2 separate regions of the Homo sapiens genome follow, and region 2 is linked to region 1. The links come from fine-mapping of genetic effects on gene expression. Tissue or cell type: whole blood. Region 1 holds a variant in brackets; the other region holds the start of a gene. All regions are shown on one strand. Distances are between the middles of the regions.

The links. PIP is the estimated chance that this variant, and not a neighbour inherited with it, causes the effect.
Region 2: it holds the start of TIGIT, and the variant in region 1 is fine-mapped to the expression of TIGIT in whole blood (INTERVAL, PIP 0.96).

The regions. Positions count from the first base shown.
Region 1 is chr3:114,204,834-114,210,049 of GRCh38, forward strand. No RefSeq gene overlaps it. Among named protein-coding and RNA genes, the nearest start is that of DRD3, 28 kb to the left of the region's middle. The variant C/T (reference allele first, on the strand shown) is at 2,633.
Region 2 is chr3:114,291,234-114,296,343 of GRCh38, forward strand. It overlaps TIGIT (T cell immunoreceptor with Ig and ITIM domains), which reads left to right and starts at 2,795. Exons shown (of 4, transcript NM_173799.4): 1 at 2,795-2,889; 2 at 4,312-4,641. The coding sequence starts at 2,829. RefSeq lists enhancers at 1-50, 1-153, 51-993.

The sequences.
Region 1 (5,216 bases):
AGTTTGAACTCTTGTAAATAGTGAGTTGCCTATCACTGGAATCATTCAAGTGGGAGCTTGATGATCATTCCTCCTTTATTATTTTTACCTCTATACTTATTAAGAGGGGTGGAGGGAGAATATATCACTGCTTTCCCCTTGGCACTCAATAGCTATATGTTGTATAAACAAATATTTATTGAATTCATTGCATGAATGAATTAGAAGAGAGTTTTCTCTATGGTATGAGAAGGCATATTTTGCATTCTGAGGAGAAGAAATTAAAAAGTTAGGGTAAATATTGTCAAATGGTCTTTAATTCAGAATATTTTGGTGGGAGGAATCATGGATAGTGTATTAGAATATTTTAAAAGAAAAGCAATGATTTGATTACAATCAGTTAACATGAAATAATCAGCACATGAAACTGGCTACCACAATAGCTGTTTTAAAATAATTTCAAATTATCCCTGTGGGAGAAATCTGAACTAAGATGGAAAGGCTCATGGCAGGCCCTCAGAACCTAGGTGAGTTCATATGTTCAACTTAGCAACTTTCTTTTGCTATTTCTTTATAATCTTAAAGAAAAGGCTACCTGTTCATTTGTCACAAAATTTGAACAGGTGTTCCTTTGCCTTCTAGTCTAGCTTATCCGAAACAGCACAAACAGATTGTCCTAAACAGCACACAAATGAGTCTTATTTCCTACCCAGGAGTGAAAGAACAGTCTTGGTCTTCGTAAGTCCTTAGTCATGACAATGCTTCTTTCTTTATTCTCAGGAATCAGTGTGCTCTATTTAAAGATATTGGCACAGTCTTACTGGCTTTTCAAAACTATTTGTAATGTAAGGTGAACTGGACACTAGAATGAATCTGGAAGATTTTAATTGCTCTAGGAATTTCATCTAGTTCTCACAGTGACTTCAATCATGGCTATTATCCAGTTTACACCTCCCAATTCTGCCCTCACTTTATCATACGAATGAAGCAAGACTGCATAAGTAGAATGGCATTCACACAGGAAGCATTCATTAATGTTTGAATGAAGAAATGGGAAATGATCTATTTTATTCATCAGATACTTAGAAACTAAAGTTAAATAATTCTTCCCTCATTTAAAGTTCCACAGACAGATATTTAAAAGGTTTGGTAAGTGATTGATAGAGCTCTGAAATCATATTAGCTGCCATTTATTTCTCACTGTGACATGTACCAGGCCACTTCTAAATCCTTTATATGCATTATTTCATTCATACCTTACAATATCATATGAACCAGGCATTGTTATCTTCCTTTCACAGAGAAGAAATGGAAGTATAGAGAGGTTGACCAGCTCAAATCACTCTCTCAGGAAGCTTCAGAGCTGAGATCCAAGCTCCAGGGTACTTGGCTTCAAGGCCAGAGCCACTGGTCTAGAGTGCCATAGGTAAGTAGCCATTATAGAAGAACAGCTGAGCAATTTTAAAACACGTTGTGAAATCACATCAAATCTTGAGGGCAACTAAGGTGAAAAGTAGATGATCTAAAAGGGCAAAATTTGCTTTTGTGTAAGTTTTACCTGAAACTATGAGCGTATATCCCCCAAACTATCACAGGAAATATAGTAATCTCTCCCCTATTCCTTCTCAGATTAGAGCTAGGTATTTATGGAAAATGTGGTATCCTAGAAATGTCAACCAAGGAAGAAGCTATTGGTGGAAGAAAATTTGACCTCCCTCATCCTCTCCACAATCTCTTTAACATCTCATATCTGGCAAGGCCACACAGTTCAAGGCATTCAAACGATTGCCTTCATGGGTTTCTGCTGATGGTATGATTGTTTGTCAAGCACCTGCTATATTCGTAATTTTTAAAAATTGTAGTAAAACATATATAATTTAAAATTTGCCATTTTCATCATTTTAAAGTGTACAATTCAATGGCATTAATTACATTCACCATCTTATATAACCATCACAATTTCCAAAAATCATTTCATCATCTCAAAGAGAAATTCTGTGTCCATTAAGCAATAACTCCCCATTATTCCCTTCTCCCATTCCATGGTAACCTCTAATATACTTTCAATCTCTGTGAATTTGTCTATTCTAGATATTTCATATAATTGAAATCATGCAATATTTGTCCTTTTGTGTCTGATTTATTTCACTTAGAGAGAGAAAGAGGGCTTAATTCTTTTTTCAGTAACCCACTCTCCAGATAATTCACTCTGCAAAACAGCATTAATTCATTCATAAAGTCTGAGCCCCATGACCTAATCATCTCTTAAATATCCCACCTCTCAACATTGTTGCACTGGGGATTAAGTTTCTAACACATGAACTTTGGGGGACACATTCAAACCATAGCACACCACCTTTGGCTGTTGTGAATAATGCTGCTATCAACATTAGCTTATAAGTATCTGTTTAAGTCTTTGTTTTCAATTCTTTTTGGTATATACCTAGCAGTGCAGTTGCGGGGTCATAAGGTAATTCTATGTTTAATGTTTTGAGGAATAGCCAAACTGTTTTCCAGAGGGCTATACAATTTATATCCTCACCAGCAATGCACAAATTTCCATTTTTTCCACATCCTTACAAACATTTGTTATTCCTTATTATTTCCTTTTTTAAAAAGTAGTCATCCTAGTAGTTATGAAGTGGTATCTCAT[C/T]GTGGCTTTGATCCGCATTTCCCTAATGACGAATGATGTTGAGCATCTTTTCATGTGCTTATTGGCCATTTGTGTATCTTCTTTGGAGAAATGCTTATTCAAGTGCTTTGACATTTTTAAATTGAGTTGTCGGAGTTATATTTATTATCTTTAATTTTCATCACAACTCTGCAAATTACGCATTATTGCTTTAACTTCATAGAGGAGAAAATCAAGGCTGAGAGACTGTTACTTGTCTGAGGTCCTACTATAAGTGGCAGAGCCAGAATTTGAATCCACATATGATAGGGCATCTCTAAGAGGGTCTCCATGATTCTCCCCTCCTGATACTCATGCCCTCATGTAATCCCTTCCCCTGGGGTGTGAGGTGAATGTTAATGACTCATTTCTAATAGATATAATATATCAAAAGGGATGGGATGCCGCTTCTGAGATTAGGAAGTGAAAGATTGTGGCTTGCATCGTGCTTGCTCTTTTTCATTCTCTCGCTTGTTAACTCTGAGGGAAGCTAGTTGCCACATTGTGAGCAACATGATAGAGAGACCCATGTGTCAATCAACTGAAGGAGTCCTCTGGCCATCCAACAGCCAGTGAAGACGTGAGGTGTTCAGTCCAGAAAACTGTGAGGAACTGAATTTTACCAACTATGTGAGGAGCTTAGAAATCAGTCCTCCCTTAGTTAAACCATCACATCAGACCACAGCTGTGGTCAGCACCTTGATTATAGCCTTGTGAGAGACTTTGGGGTACAGGCATCTGGCTAAGCTGTGCCCAGATTCTTGACCTATAAAAATACTAATAAATAATTAATATTTGTTGTTTTAAGCTGCTAAGTTTTGAGGCAATTTGTTATGCAGCAATAGATAACTAACGCTTCATATCTACTGCTTTTTAAGTAAAAACATTAAATTGGTTTAGATGCCAAGCAAAGACATTTTAACAGAAGATAATGGGGCAAGTACTCTCTCTGGACCTGTTTGGGCACAGCAGACATGGGCCAACCTAAAGAAGGAATTAAATTTGGGATGGGAATAGTCAACCTGACTGTGGTTATGAGAAGTTTATTGAAAATAATTTTGTGTGTTGACCTTTTGGATTATTCTTGTGAGTCATGGGGTTCAGCCTATACTCTAGTCTCCCTTAGGAGCACAGAAAAGCTATCTTGAGATATCCTTACCTCTTCTCTGGAATCTCTAGGTTCTTCCATTGGACAGAAAGGTACTAGGGAGAGGGACAAATACGTTATGACTTCTTCCTACTTTAGAATTTTTCTGGATTAAAACCTCAGTGTTCATTTATCAGGCTTTTGGCACTCGTTCATACAAGAAATCCAATCTATCATCATCAACATCAGTAAAAAGTATTGATGGTGCGTTGTGTTCTGAACCTGTATTTCTTGAATGGACTATATGGGGTTCAAAGAAGTCTTTGCAATTATAGGCACAATGATGTATGTTTGTGCAAATTGCATTTTTTCCTGCAGAGAGGGGCCATAACTTTCATGGACTCTCAAAGGGGTATGGAATCTAAAACAGTTAAAGACCATAGCTTGGGTTTCTTATTAGCATGCTTACTCCTGGCTATAACTGCACCCTTATTTTGAACTCAGATCAGGGATGGACCTTTTCTGCTGTCCAGAGTCTCCTGTTGTTGTTCTTCAGATCACAAGACTGGACCTTTTGGATACTGACAGCAGCTCAGCTTGGGCCCAGGTAACCACAGCCTCTTAAGATACTGTGCCTGAGTTGGCCAGGCAACCTCCCAGTGGGAGCACTGGTCCATGCTGTACAGTCTAACTCCTATCTGCTGGCCCATTGTGAGGCTCCTTTGTGCTTTTGTTTTTCTATCTCAGGGCAATTTACTCTTATACATACCTGGTAATGCCAAGAAGAGACTTTTTGGCAAATAAATCTCTTCTTTAGTGTCAAAATGATAAACAATTAGCATTGAAGGTAGAAGAACTCTAGTCCAAATTATATTATCTTATCACAGTCTTCTCTCCAGTGTTGAAGAGCTTCTATCATCCTTGCAAAGAACCCATTCCATTGCTGGTCAATTTTGTTGGAAATATCTTCCAACAAACCCTAGTGTTGCTCTGCTTCTTTCTTCACATTGGCAGCTGTTCCAATGATTGAAAACAGCTCTCAATTCAAGTTACTTTAAGAGTTGTTTGGCTGGGGGTGGTGGCTTGTGTCTGTAATCCCAGCACTTTGGGAGGCCGAGGTGGGTGGATCACCTGAGGTCAGGAGTTTGAGACCAGCCTAGCCAACATGGTAAAACCCCATCTGTACTAAAAATACAAAAATTAGTTGGGCATGATGGTGGACACCTGTAATCCCAGCTACTTGGGAGGCTGAGGCATGAGGATCGCTTAAACCCAGGCGGCCCAAGTTTCAGTGAGCTGGGATGGCGTCACTGCACTTCAGCCTGGGCATTAAGAGCAAGACTCTGTCTGAGAAAAAGAAAAAGAGTTGTTCATGTCATGTTTTTGAGCCCCCTCATCTCGCTCAACTTGAGAGCATCTGTTTGTCTACAATAATGGAGAGGGTTTTTCTCCTCCCTCACAAGGTTCTTGAAAGTAGTC
Region 2 (5,110 bases), 86 kb after region 1:
GTCTGTGCTCTGGGAGAACCCTAGGTTGTGTTTCCCGTGTACAAGCCACCGATCTTGTGGAAGGTACCACCACTCCCAGCCCCGCTTGGCTGAGGGCTGCGGGCCACAGGTTTTCAGGACCGTGCTTGTGGTTGGAGGCTGTGGACTCAAGTGCGGCTGGCCCGGGACTTTCACAGGGCGCAGGGCGGGCTAGGGGAAGGCCCAGCTGTGAACTGATAAGGGGGTTTTACAGTCTAGGCCAGCACTTCTTCCCCTTTCACGGGCAAACGTGACATTCTTTTTCAGCACCTGTACTCACCCAGCTGCATCAAGGCGGACCAGACTTGTCCAACTCACAGCCCCAAAAGTCAGGGCAGAATAAAGCACAGTGGCTGATTTTAGCATTTTTAAAATAGAAATGTGAGTCAGCACCTGATGGACCTCACAGATCCCTGCTATGCCACGAGGGCTGCTGACTGGCCTTAAAAGCTCAGGGTGGCCCGGGGAGCTCTCAGAGCAGGCCTGCTTCTCACAGCTGAGCCGCTCAGTGCTGGGGGCTGGTGTTGAGTGGGTGGGAACCAGCCAGGTTCCCCGTGGAGTCTGTGCAGGAGGCTCTGGAGGGTCTGGGGTAGATTCCCTGGGGAGAGACTTCTGTCATTTGCTTTCCTCCAAGGCAGCCTCAGGGTCTAGCTGGCAAGTGGTCACTTTCCTGCAGAAACATGCTATCCTCCTGTTCTATCAGATAAGGAGGGCAGAATGAAGAGGTTGGGTGGAACCCTGGCCTTGGAGTCTGGAGACTAGGATTTTACTCTTGACAAAGCACATTATATAGATAGGGATATTGTCCTCCAATTTTCCTTTCACTTCCTTAATTAATATTGTTATCAATACTACTGTTGATGTATTGAACTCCTGCCATCTTCCAGGCACTGTGCTGAACACTTCACCAAACACTAGAGAATTAAATCCTCACAACCCTATGAAAGAGGTACTCTTATTCCTATATGCACATGGGGAAACTGAGCCTTCAGGAGGTTGAGAAAGTTTTCCAAGGTCACCAAACAGGATGACTTTGGACCCAGTCTGTTAATCATCCCCCTCTAGAGCACCATTGATCAAAATGGACTTGACCATATTCCTCTTTGGACTGGTTACTTAGCAAAAAACAGAAAAATTATTTAACAATTGTTTAAAACCACCTCTAAGTTTCTCTGGATATCTCATTATATAAGAGAGGTCTCACCTCTTTGGCTCCCACCCAGCTCAACTATGGAAACACAGGCTGTAAATTTTTATAGCCCAAATCCTAGTGTCCACCACTTTCTGTGCTCTAGTCCCACTAGCTGCTCTTGGCCCTGCCACTCCTGGCTCCCCGGCCTTAGTGAGTTTGGGAAACATCCCTCCAGTTCAACCTTGGCACCTTCCCTTGGACACACATTAGGTATTATTTCTCCTTCAGCTGAAGGCTTTGTAGCTATTGAAAGGCAAGGCATCTCTTGATGTGAGCCTTGAAGGACAGGTTGCTTTGGGTAGGCAGAGAGAAGCTGGTAAGGCGTATATTGTCTAAGGGTCTGGAGGTGGGGTATAAGGGGTATACAAGTCATAGAGTTGGGGATAGGCAGAACCCAGAGAGGGGAGAAAACTGGCCTGAGATAGAAGACCTTGCAAGGGAGAAGGAGGGTAGGAGCCTGGATGGTGTGAAATGCTAGAGGTGCATGGCTGGAATGGAGGGGGTGGGGCACCAGGCTTCAGATGCTTCTGGGTGCAGATGCAGATTTTCAGGATGTACAACATGGAGCATCCCCAAGGCAACTGTGTTGAGAGCCTGCGAGGCAGGTGAATGTGGATCTTCTACCCCCTCTCCTGACTGAGTTCACCAAGGAACAAGCTTTGTAAACTATTTGAGGGTAGGGGCTGTGATTATTTACTCTCATATCCTCAGAGCCTGGTGTTGAGGTTGGTGCTTTGTAGGCACCCAGGGACTTTCAAATGAATGAAGGGAGGGAGGGAGGAAAGAAGGATGGGTCCATAGTAGGACCTGGTGATGGGCTGGGAGCTCCAGGCAAATGTCAACCAATCCCTCTCCTGGGTCAGCTCCCAGGGGCTCACCCTTCTTTGCATTTCCAGCTCTCATGAGGTCATTGTGCACAGGAAAGCTCTCTCCTCTAATCTCCTCTGATCCTACTGCACCAGAGAAATCAAGCCAGAATTCAATAAAGTCTCAGTCCAGATAAACAAGACAAAAGAAATAAGATTCGAGTAGAAGATCTCCTTCAAGGGAAAGTTGCTGTGTTTGTCCAAGACCTTTGTCCCATCCATGTATCATCCCCCAAGTAAACACTTCTTGTTCACCTGTTCATTAGATTTCAAGTGCAGTCCCTGGCCTGTAAGTCCCTACAATGATAAGCTTCTCTTATCATTGCACATTCTTCATCAGGAGGATGCCAGAGGAGCTCAGCCAACAGTTCCTCATCAGTAGCAGATTCTTCAGAATCTTGGGCACTACACAGATGCCCTTGAGCTCTTTGAATAAAGGCTGATTTTTAGAAAAAACATTAAGACAGAACTTAAAAACAATAGATTGACTATAATCCAAAGACGAGTGTACCTCTAACCACAATTTTCATTTATTTTTAAATGTTTCCTTCATGGCCTTTCTTGTGGCTCACCCTATGCAGTTTGTGTATTTGTTGACAACTTTATGTGTTTTTAATATGGTTTTTGCCAAACTTGGTTTTTCCGAGACCGTCTTTTCTCAGAGGCTCAGTTTTACCGTCCTATCTGCAGTCGGCTACTTTCAGTGGCAGAAGAGGCCACATCTGCTTCCTGTAGGCCCTCTGGGCAGAAGCATGCGCTGGTGTCTCCTCCTGATCTGGGCCCAGGGGCTGAGGCAGGCTCCCCTCGCCTCAGGTAAGGCCTGAAACCCAGCAGAGCAGCAGGGAGGAAAAACAAGGCTAAGCTTGGTTGGAGACTTGGGTGCTTGTGTAGGGAAGACTCCAAGAGCATGCCACAGCTGCTTGAGAGAAAGAAATTGCAACTTTTAGAGTCCTGTGTACTCTTATTTAAGAAAGGACAATCTCTGAGAATGAGGTGGGGTTCTGTTTTTGGTGGCAGATGAAGGACTTTGCAGACTTCCGGGGTTGGAGGAGCCTGACTGGCCAGCACAAGAAGGAGCAGGAGAAGAAGAAGGGCTGGGCAGGAGGCATTGCCAGTTTGCTTTTAGAAGCTCATTCCTGCTCCAGCTTCTTTTCTGTTGCCTTTCAGGAACTTTCCAGGAAAACATTATAAGTTCTCTGTGAATTGAAAATGTCTTTTTCACAGATTCCAGAGGTTCTACCACTAGAGACTGATTTTTTGTTAAATTTATTTCTTCTATATTAAAAATCAGAGTCAAATATTTCTGAGGGAGGGGAACACAAATATTTAAAAACTGTGGTATAAATTAGTTTTTATGTTGCCTTCTGAACTATCTGAGGATGGAGATGTGCCCAGGGTTGCTGGGGAGAGGTTAAGTGCTGAGAGGGTGGTTATGCCTGGGAGAAGCAGGGTTTCCTGCTAAGCTTCCTTTGCTATTGGATTTCTTGGCTTTCCTGAAGGTTTTTTCAGGCACTGCAAATGACAATCAACCAAACAGCAAGGTTTTATTTCAAAGGATAATGCATCCAGCATAGAACTAGGCCGCAGGAAGAAACATAAAAACAAAACAAAATAAAAACAGAAGAGGTGGTATCAGCTGACAAGGGCTTATATTCTAAGTGGGTAGACAAAATAGGCCTACGAAAATAACAAGCTGGCCATGAAGCTACATAGCAGAATATGCGAGGGGGCAACGTGCTAAGTTGTGTAGTCATAAGCCAGGCATTTAGTAAGGTGCTAATTATACAATACAGGCAGTGAATGTGAAAGGAAAAGGGAGGTTGAGATGGGCTGAGGTCTTCTAGGAGGCGGGGAGGGAGTGCAGCCTTGACAAGCCTCCCTGTGGGCGAGGTGTAAAGAGGGGCAGAAGTCAGCTCTGGAAGCATAGGGCAGTGGGTGGGGAGGAGATGGGCTGGGCTGGGCTGGAGTAGAGATGTGTGGAGAAGGGTGAGAAGACTGGAAAGACAACCTGAATGGGGGACTGGGAGCCTTGAATAACAGGCATGGAGAGGAGCGTCTCTTGAAATGGAAGAAACAGGAAATAATTACAGCCTCTATGGAGGAGCAACAGGATGGACTGGAGAAACTATCATTCCAAAATCCAGTTGGGGCCTCAAAGGCCCTTAGAATTTTTCTAGGAAGGTTGAAGGCCAGCTGCTGACCCAGGACTCACATGTGCTTCGTCCTCTTCCCTAGGAATGATGACAGGCACAATAGAAACAACGGGGAACATTTCTGCAGAGAAAGGTGGCTCTATCATCTTACAATGTCACCTCTCCTCCACCACGGCACAAGTGACCCAGGTCAACTGGGAGCAGCAGGACCAGCTTCTGGCCATTTGTAATGCTGACTTGGGGTGGCACATCTCCCCATCCTTCAAGGATCGAGTGGCCCCAGGTCCCGGCCTGGGCCTCACCCTCCAGTCGCTGACCGTGAACGATACAGGGGAGTACTTCTGCATCTATCACACCTACCCTGATGGGACGTACACTGGGAGAATCTTCCTGGAGGTCCTAGAAAGCTCAGGTATTCCTGCTGGAGCAAGTTGGTGGATAAACCTCTCCCTCTAGCATAGAAAATGCAATCCTGAAACACTGCACAGCAGGGCTTCTCAATTCGGGATCACATTTGAATCACCTGAGGAGATTTTAAATCATACTGATGCCGAGGCCTCACCCAGACCAATTCAATCAGAATCCCTAATAGCAGAGCTAAACAAGGGTAAGGTCTAAAAGCATTTCCAGGTGATTCTAATGGGCAGCCAATACTGAGAACCACTGTTCTTATGTAAGAAGCACATCTTACCTATATTTCCTAGGAAGACCAGTTGATGAGGTCATATGCAAAAGTTCCCATTTATTGGTTTAGTATAATTGTGCAAATTAGAATTAACCCCTAAGTGTATAAAGAGTAGAGCTGGTTAAAAACATAGCCTGTGCTAAGTTTAATTGTACAGTAATTTACATTTGTGTGGTACTTCCAAGTTTCCCAAATG